Linked DNA regions of Homo sapiens. The protein of the gene in region 1 purifies or fractionates together with the protein of each later gene. This does not show direct contact. Each region holds a gene or a part of one and is shown in the gene's direction. Other genes may lie near its edges.

Region 1 (3,827 bases):
AGAGACCTTGGGGAAGATGACATGGCAGCAGCCTGTGCAATGCATGTCTTCTCTATTTAGAGTGAACATTCTTCACCGAGGACTCTGTAGCTTCTGCCTGAACCATTTATTTCATGATGTGATTCATTGCCTTACAGGGTAGTCCATTTCTGTGTTGAATAACTTCTGTTAGAAAATGTTGCTTTGTACAGTACATTTCACTGTAGTTTTCACCCTCCCCACCCTTCTTACATTTTTTCCTCTTTGCTTACCTTTTTCAGCATTACTCTATCTTCAGGTTAATCTCTTCTCTGATTAATTCTTCATTTGTCTTTCTGGCTTTTCTTGAACTCACTCACTTAAATATTAGTATCTAAAGCTTATCTCATTATACATACTCTGTTTGCCCTCAGTTGCCACCTGTAAGCTAAGGACTCTCTTAGTCCACACTTTCTCACTTGCCACTCGGTACCTTCACTAAATAGGATCTTAGGTTACTGAAGTCCGAAGTTAAACTCTGTGTCATTTTCCCTCGTGCTTCCTTCATCCCCATTCTCTAAACATGAACAAACCAGTTCCTGGCCCCTGTGTCTCATGTTGTTGGAAGGATTGCATGGATTTGTCTTCTTGTGTTGCCTGTCTTGGTCATCACTGTTCATCCACTTGCCCAAGCTGAGATCAAGAAGACCTCCTCTTCCCATTGCCATAGCGGATAGTTCTTTTTGCTTTTTACCTCTCAGCTGTTTCTTGACTCTGAATCGGTATCTTTTCATCTTCATCCCCACCTGGACTAACAGTAGTGGCTCCATAATTAATCTCTTTGTCTGTACTGTTACCCTCTAGAAGTCTGTCCTGCTAGAATGAGCTTCCTGAAATATTTTCCTGAGCATGCCACTCTCCTACTTAAAATCTGTTACTAGTGTTCTGTAGCTTGGGTGTTAGAACTCTTTGGCATGGAGATTGTGAGGCCCTTTGTATTCTTTACCTCTGTTCTCCCAAACCCAATAAAGCCTCATCTCTTGTCACCCCTAACATGCACCTTGCATTCCACCACTCCAGATTAACGACACAGCTTCAGATCTCCGTGCCTTTGCACATGCTGTTCTTTCTGTTAAGTCACTTCTCACCTTGTCCACTTCTGAAACTCCTTATCTAGTCAATGAATTTTTCTCTACCAGCTTTCTCTTCCAAAGAGAGTTATGGTCACTATTCTGTGTTCCCATAGCTTCCTGAGTACTTTTCATCTTCTGTTACTTATTTTCTTGTCTTTTCTGCTAGTCTCAACCTCTGAAGGGGTTGGCCGGGTTGTCTTATTCACCTTTGTTTCCCTAGTGTAGCACTAACATGTAGCATAGAGAAGATAACCAGTAAATGTTTGTTGACTGAATGTTGAATTGCCTTTGTTTTTAACCCGTAGGGCCATACAGCACAAATCTGATTCCTTTATATGATGGCCCTTCATGTGTCTAATCACATTTCCTGTGTGCATGTGTGTGTGGGCCCCCCCTGCCCTTCCCCTCAAACCTTATCCTTTTTAAGTTAACCATCCTTAATTCCTTCAGCCACTCTTCACATTACTTAGTTTCCAGATCTTTTGTGATCTTGGTCATCCTCCTGGATATGCTGTAGTTTTAGCGTTTTTTTAGTTTTGTCATCTTTGGAAAGATCTTTGATCTTACTGAGTCATCTAAAAGAAAAGACTGATGGCGTTGCTCTGCCTGTCTGTTAGAATGAGGCACAAAAGAGATCATAGAATTCTGGGATGAATGCTCAAAGAAGATAAGAAATATGACTGATTTTCATAAACTGTATGAAAATTAATACATGATGTGAGATAGTGAAAAGACATACATGAAGGCAGAGGATATGGGGTATGACTTGTGGTTCTGCAACTTCACATACATCTGTAAGTTGGGGGATATAGGCAGGCAAGAATAATACCTTACCTACCTAACTGGATTGTCAGAAAAATAAAATGTAAAATTGTTCATAAACTATAAAGTACTGTACCTATGTAGAATGGCTTCAGTGTTTCTTTGTGAACTCTAAAAATATACTATATTAAATTATTTGAAAGTGTAGACTTTTTTTTCTTTTGGCTTAATTGATCATTGCTGGTTTCTTCCTTATGAGTTTTTCTCTACCTCAATGAAAATATTGGGGTAACCTTAATAAATCTCATTATATGGAGGCTGTATTTAATAGTCTTTTTTCCAAACACTTTATTTTATTAGTGACTTCCATGTGATTGGGAGCTATTTACCATATCATTGGTAAGTGTTTAGGTTTCTGGGTAAAATTGCATCAATAATTGGAGAACAGTCAGAGGAAATGACTGTAGGTAAGATCATATTGACCGGAGAGCTAAGTGAAGTGAGGAGAAGTTTTGTGTTTACGATTTTGAAAAATTAACTTTGTCATGGACATAGCTAGTGAAAGATGATTTTAAAATAGAGCTCAAATTTTGGATTCATTTAGAATGAAGAGAGTTTTTTTGATTCAAAAATTTTGTAAATAGTGACAAAAAAAGGCATTCAGACCCACTGGTATGATTTTGGTATATTTCTTTCTACTTACTGCCTATATGGCACATTATCTTTTTACATTGTAATCATGGTGTATGTATAACTTGAAATGTTTTCCTTTGACATTATACCATTTTTCTTTGTTGTCACATTATCTTTAAATCATTTTATTTTAAAAACTTATTTAAAAATACATAAATATATGTTTGTTTGCAGTCAAACAATATAAAAATACATAGAATAAAAGATTTTATCACTTCTACCCACAAATTCCATTTTTGAAACCCATAAGTAACCCCTTTTAATATCTTCCCTTGCATGTGCATATGTGTGTATGGTTTTATTTTTTTACAGATAAGCAGGATCATACTACCTATTGTTTTTTCAACTTGCTTTTTCACTTAGTATGTTGGAGATCGTTCCATGCCAGTACATACAGATTTTCCTATAACCATTATTTAAAATGTGTGTGTAATATTCCAGGGAGCAAATATAATAATAGTGGCTAATTAAAGTAGTAGTTACAGAACACTCCCTGACTTCCAGGCATTGTGCCATGCTCTTTCACATGTATTTAATCTTTTATACAGTCCTGTGAGGAAGATGACAATTTCTTCACATTCCACAGATGAGGAAACTGAGTCTCAGATATTAAGTGCCTTGCCGAAGGTCTCACAACCTTTCATGTGCAAGAGTTGGCATTGGAATCCAGGTTTTTGCAACTTCAAAGCCTATGTTCTTTATTCCTCTGCATTCTGCTGCTAATTGTGTATTCTCCTGTTATGGATATGGAAGTTGTTTTTACTGTTTTGCTGTGATAAAGAATGCTGTGATGAACATATTCTTTCTATATTTTGGATTCCCCCATATAGGATTGCTGGTGAAAAGTTAACTTGTGTGTGTATGTGGGGGTCAGGGTTCCATTTATTGCAGAAAAGTAATGATGTCATTAAGAATAATTCCATTGACTAATACTTTCATAACTTTTTGAAGGTTTTACCACTTTTAATTGTGAACTTTGGGTACTTAAGGCCATGTTTTAAAATGCAAGTTCATCTGTTAACTGAAAGGTTAAGCTAATTAATAAGTAATTTCAAAGGTCCCTTCTGCCTTCCAGGTTTCTCTTACTCTGAAGTCCATAAAATGGAACAGTGGGTTTATTTCAGCTTAATAACTTCTATTCAGTTATTGTGTTCCAACACTGGTCATTTCTGGTTTTCAGATGCAAAAGTCACCTTTTTTTCATTCGCTAAAGCTCAGGTTATTGTATATCTTTTTTTTGTAGTGCAAAGTAGGATATGATTGGAAAATCGTCTATGTTAC
Region 2 (3,827 bases), on another chromosome or scaffold:
ATGCGAAACCTGTAGAAAAACCTGTAGAACCTGGGAAGGAGCTATTCTATCCCTGTATTCCATAATCTAGTCTACCTGGCTAAAAAATTATAGCCAACTAAGAAAGGGTTCTACATTCTGGATTATTTCCTTTTTTAGTGTTGAGAAAGTTGGTATTTTAGCCTTATGGAGACTATTAGCCTTACTGTTGAAATGAGCTGGCAAAGCCTTGTCTCTTGATACTAGTATATTAGACCCTAGAGTGTTTCTGAGTGATGGTTCTTGACTGTATTTACTCTCATATATAAAAGCATTTTCTCTTTAAAATTTCAATGAGCAGGCCAGGTGCGGTGGCTCACACCTGTAATCCCAGCACTTTGGGAGGCTGAGGCAGGCAGATCACCTGAGGTCAGGAGTTCGAGACCAGCCTGACCAACATGCAGAAATCAAAAATACAAAAAAATTAGCCAGGCGTGGTGGTGCATGCCTGTAATCCCAGCTACTCGGGAAGCTGAGGCAGGAGAATCACTTGAACCCAGGAGATGGAGGTTGCAGTGAGCTAAGATCGAGCTATTGCACTCCAGCCTGGGCAACAAGAGCAAAACTCCATCTCGAAAATAAATAAATAAATAAATTCAGTGAGCACTCTAGAAATGTGGTATTTAATAGATCTTTAGATAGCATACTTCTGCTTATGGTTTGTTATATGTCACTCATTCTCACATTCTCCTCATTTTGACTTTAGGTAAGAGCGCTACTACAGTGACCCAGGAGAATAGCATGTTAGCCCACTTGAGGGTCTCCAGGCTTCTCTAAGTTGTTAGCCTTTGGTGATTCCCTGGAGGCCCAGCTGCTGCTTTCTGTTAGCAGGTTCTCATTCAGTTATTTTTATTTACTCATTCATTTATTTAATCTTTCATTCATAGATATTTTTTGATCCTTCTCTAAAGGCACTGACAACTTTGAAATGTCACATAGGCCACAGGTGTATTTGCCAACTGCGAAAGGCATTTTTCATCCCTTTTCCCTTCTGAATTGACTTCTCCTTCCCACCCACGGGTCCCATGCCCTCATGCTGCCTTCAGTTGTCTGAAGTTCTTAAAGTAACACTACCAACGCCTGCTTGTCCCTAGAATAGCCTGGGTCCAAAATTGAGCTCCCTCCTGGCCTTCATCGAGCTTAATGTCTTTGTTCTCTTGGTAGAGTGATATCAGTGGTAAATAGAGGAAAATATCCTTATGTTAGATATTTTTCCAGGGAAGCACATTGCTACTTCTATTGCTATCCATAATGCCCTCCAGTATGACAGAGGAACAGAAGTTAGCAACTTGGTACCTAATTTCTCAGGCATTGCTAACTCCAAAACAATTGTAGATTTAGAAATCTGCAACTCTGGATTATACAATAAAGACTAAGATATGGCCCCTTAAGATATCTTTTAATTTGGAAAAACAACAACATGGATTCATTTAGTAATATTGAACATCTTTTAGGTGCTAGATATTGGTGATTAAAATGTTCGAGACATTCTTTTTATCTTTGGAATTCATATTTAGTGGTAGAAGGACATATAAACATGCTATTTTCTGCCAGCATGTAAATTAAGACAACATAGACGTGAGAATGCTTAGAACCCATTTGGAATTGGGCTGGTTTCACAGGGAAGGTGGTATTTATGCTGGACCTGGAAAGGTTGACTTGGGAAGATTGAGAGCAGATTTTATGGGTTAAGATTCAGTGCAGATTTCTTTTCTCTTTCACTGAGAGCCTGTGGAAGATTATAAGGTGGGAATACTGTAGTCAGATCTCTGTTTCAGAAAGTGGCCATGTGAAGTAAATTGGAGTGTGGAGAGTGTTGTCAGGATGCCATTTGAGAAGCTATTATATAGTAATTCCTGGACTGTGTAGAGGGACTTTGGGATGCTTTTGTTAGAAGAATAGGATAAAGACTTGTCTTGGGGCTGTGCTTGCATCGTAAGCCCACCATTTGCTGTTATGATTATTGTCTACATGCTTACTTTTAACTAGAATAGGACAGTGACAGAGATTATAGAAGACTGAAGCCCTTTCTCCTGCCATCCACTCAGCAGCATCACAACTACCGGCAACAGGGTGAAAGGTCTGCAGTGGAAATAAGACTCAGGAAATGATTTCAATACATAATGCAGAGAGAATCAACATTACTTCATGTGGGGGGAAAAGAATGATAGTTGAGAAAAGGCTCACAAGAGACTTTGAGACTTGGTAGGATTCACGAAACAGAACAGTCTGATTCCAGATTTCAGGCATGTAGAATGGGAGGGCCATAGGCAAAAAGGTGGGAAAGTGCAGAAATGACATGTTCAGGCCCCAAGGGTGCCTCAGGCTGGCTGGAGCACAGTTACTAACGGGACATTTGGGTAGGATGTAGTCCAGTGAGAAAAAGTTGCGGCATTGGTTGGATCCAAAAATGTACATGGGTCTAGGCTACTCTGGGCACACTGCCTGTGGGTTACCCTGCTTCACAAGGAGCAGCCAGTCTGCAATAAAAATAAAAATTAAAACATTAAAACAAACAAAGTGTACATGATCTAGATTTTTGGACTTTATACTGGTGGTGGTTAGAAACCACTAAGTATTTTGGTAAGAATTTTGTGGTCAAATCCATTTTAGGAAGACAAATTTTTAGGGAGCATCAAGGATGCACTAGAAGCTTTAAGAGCCCAAAAAGCAGGAATTCTAGGTATGAGGAGGCAGTTGCAATTTTCTATCCTTGGGCTACAGAGAGCTCAGTCATGTCAATGAGAATCTGAGAAGTTGGCCAAGGCTACACAGATACAGTGATGCGGTGGGAGCACGAATCTAAGACTTGCATGCTCTAAAGGTCATGCATTTTCAGTTCTACCTTGAGATCAGAGAAAATGAAGATGAGGCGGGAGGGATTTGAGGATTACAAAGTCAAAGGTGGAATTCAAGGGAGCATTTTCCATCGAGATATATGTAGAAGCCAATTTTCAGGGAATTACAGAGGAACTGGGTAACAGTGAAATGGCTTCTCAAGTTATTATAATGATTGAATGGTAGATTAACCTGGTCACTTGCTATGCAGATGTTTCATTTCCTGTCTAACTGTCCAAAAATCCTGCATCTAATATAATTTTTGCTCTCATATCTACCCCTTTTCTGCTCAGATGATTACTCGTTTTTCCCTGTAGGCTCCCCAGTGTTATTCATGGCCCTGAGACAGTGAGTGTGGAGCTGAGTGTCAGTTGGTGACATGTGTTTGGTCTTTCTTTCCTCACTGGCTCATTCATGATGAATTTTTATTAATCTTGGAGAAAGGCAGAAGTTGACTTTTGAGACAATTCTACCATAATAAGCTTAGTAAAAACACTAGGACTAGCAAAATCTTTGTATCTCTTCATTTGTAAAGTAAAACTATAGGCTTCATTCCTAGTAAACTTAACAAAATAAAATTAGCACCAATAAAAATATAATAAAATCTATATTATGTGAAAATATTTTAGTACACAAATACTACTCAATAATTGGCTTAGAATTTGGGGGTTGCCATTGAAGGGCATTCCTCAATTTTTTTTTTTAATTCTAGCCTTAGAAATTTTTTCTTCTGGAATATGTACATCTCTAGTCATATTAATACCAGTTGTGTGCTTTGTGTTTTATTCCTTATTAGGGCATCATTGCAGAATACAACAAAATCAATGATGTAAAGGAAGATGATGACACGGAGAAGTTTAAAGAAGCCATTGTGAAATTTCATAGGCTGTTTGGGATGCCAGAGGAAGAGAAACTCGTCAACTATTACTCTTGCAGCTATTGGAAGGGGAAGGTCCCCCGTCAGGGTTGGA

What was found.
Region 2: the proteins of NEO1 (region 1) and TBC1D9 fractionate together in Homo sapiens (co-fractionation; one large-scale study listed by BioGRID). This does not show direct contact.

Annotation. Positions count from the first base shown.
Region 1 is NC_000015.10:73,055,184-73,059,010, forward strand, and holds part of NEO1 (neogenin isoform 1 precursor), read left to right. Parts: intron 1-3,827. UniProt on the Homo sapiens protein: Multi-functional cell surface receptor regulating cell adhesion in many diverse developmental processes, including neural tube and mammary gland formation, myogenesis and angiogenesis.
Region 2 is NC_000004.12:140,679,669-140,683,495, reverse strand, and holds part of TBC1D9 (TBC1 domain family member 9), read left to right. Parts: intron 1-3,652; coding exon 3,653-3,827. UniProt on the Homo sapiens protein: May act as a GTPase-activating protein for Rab family protein(s).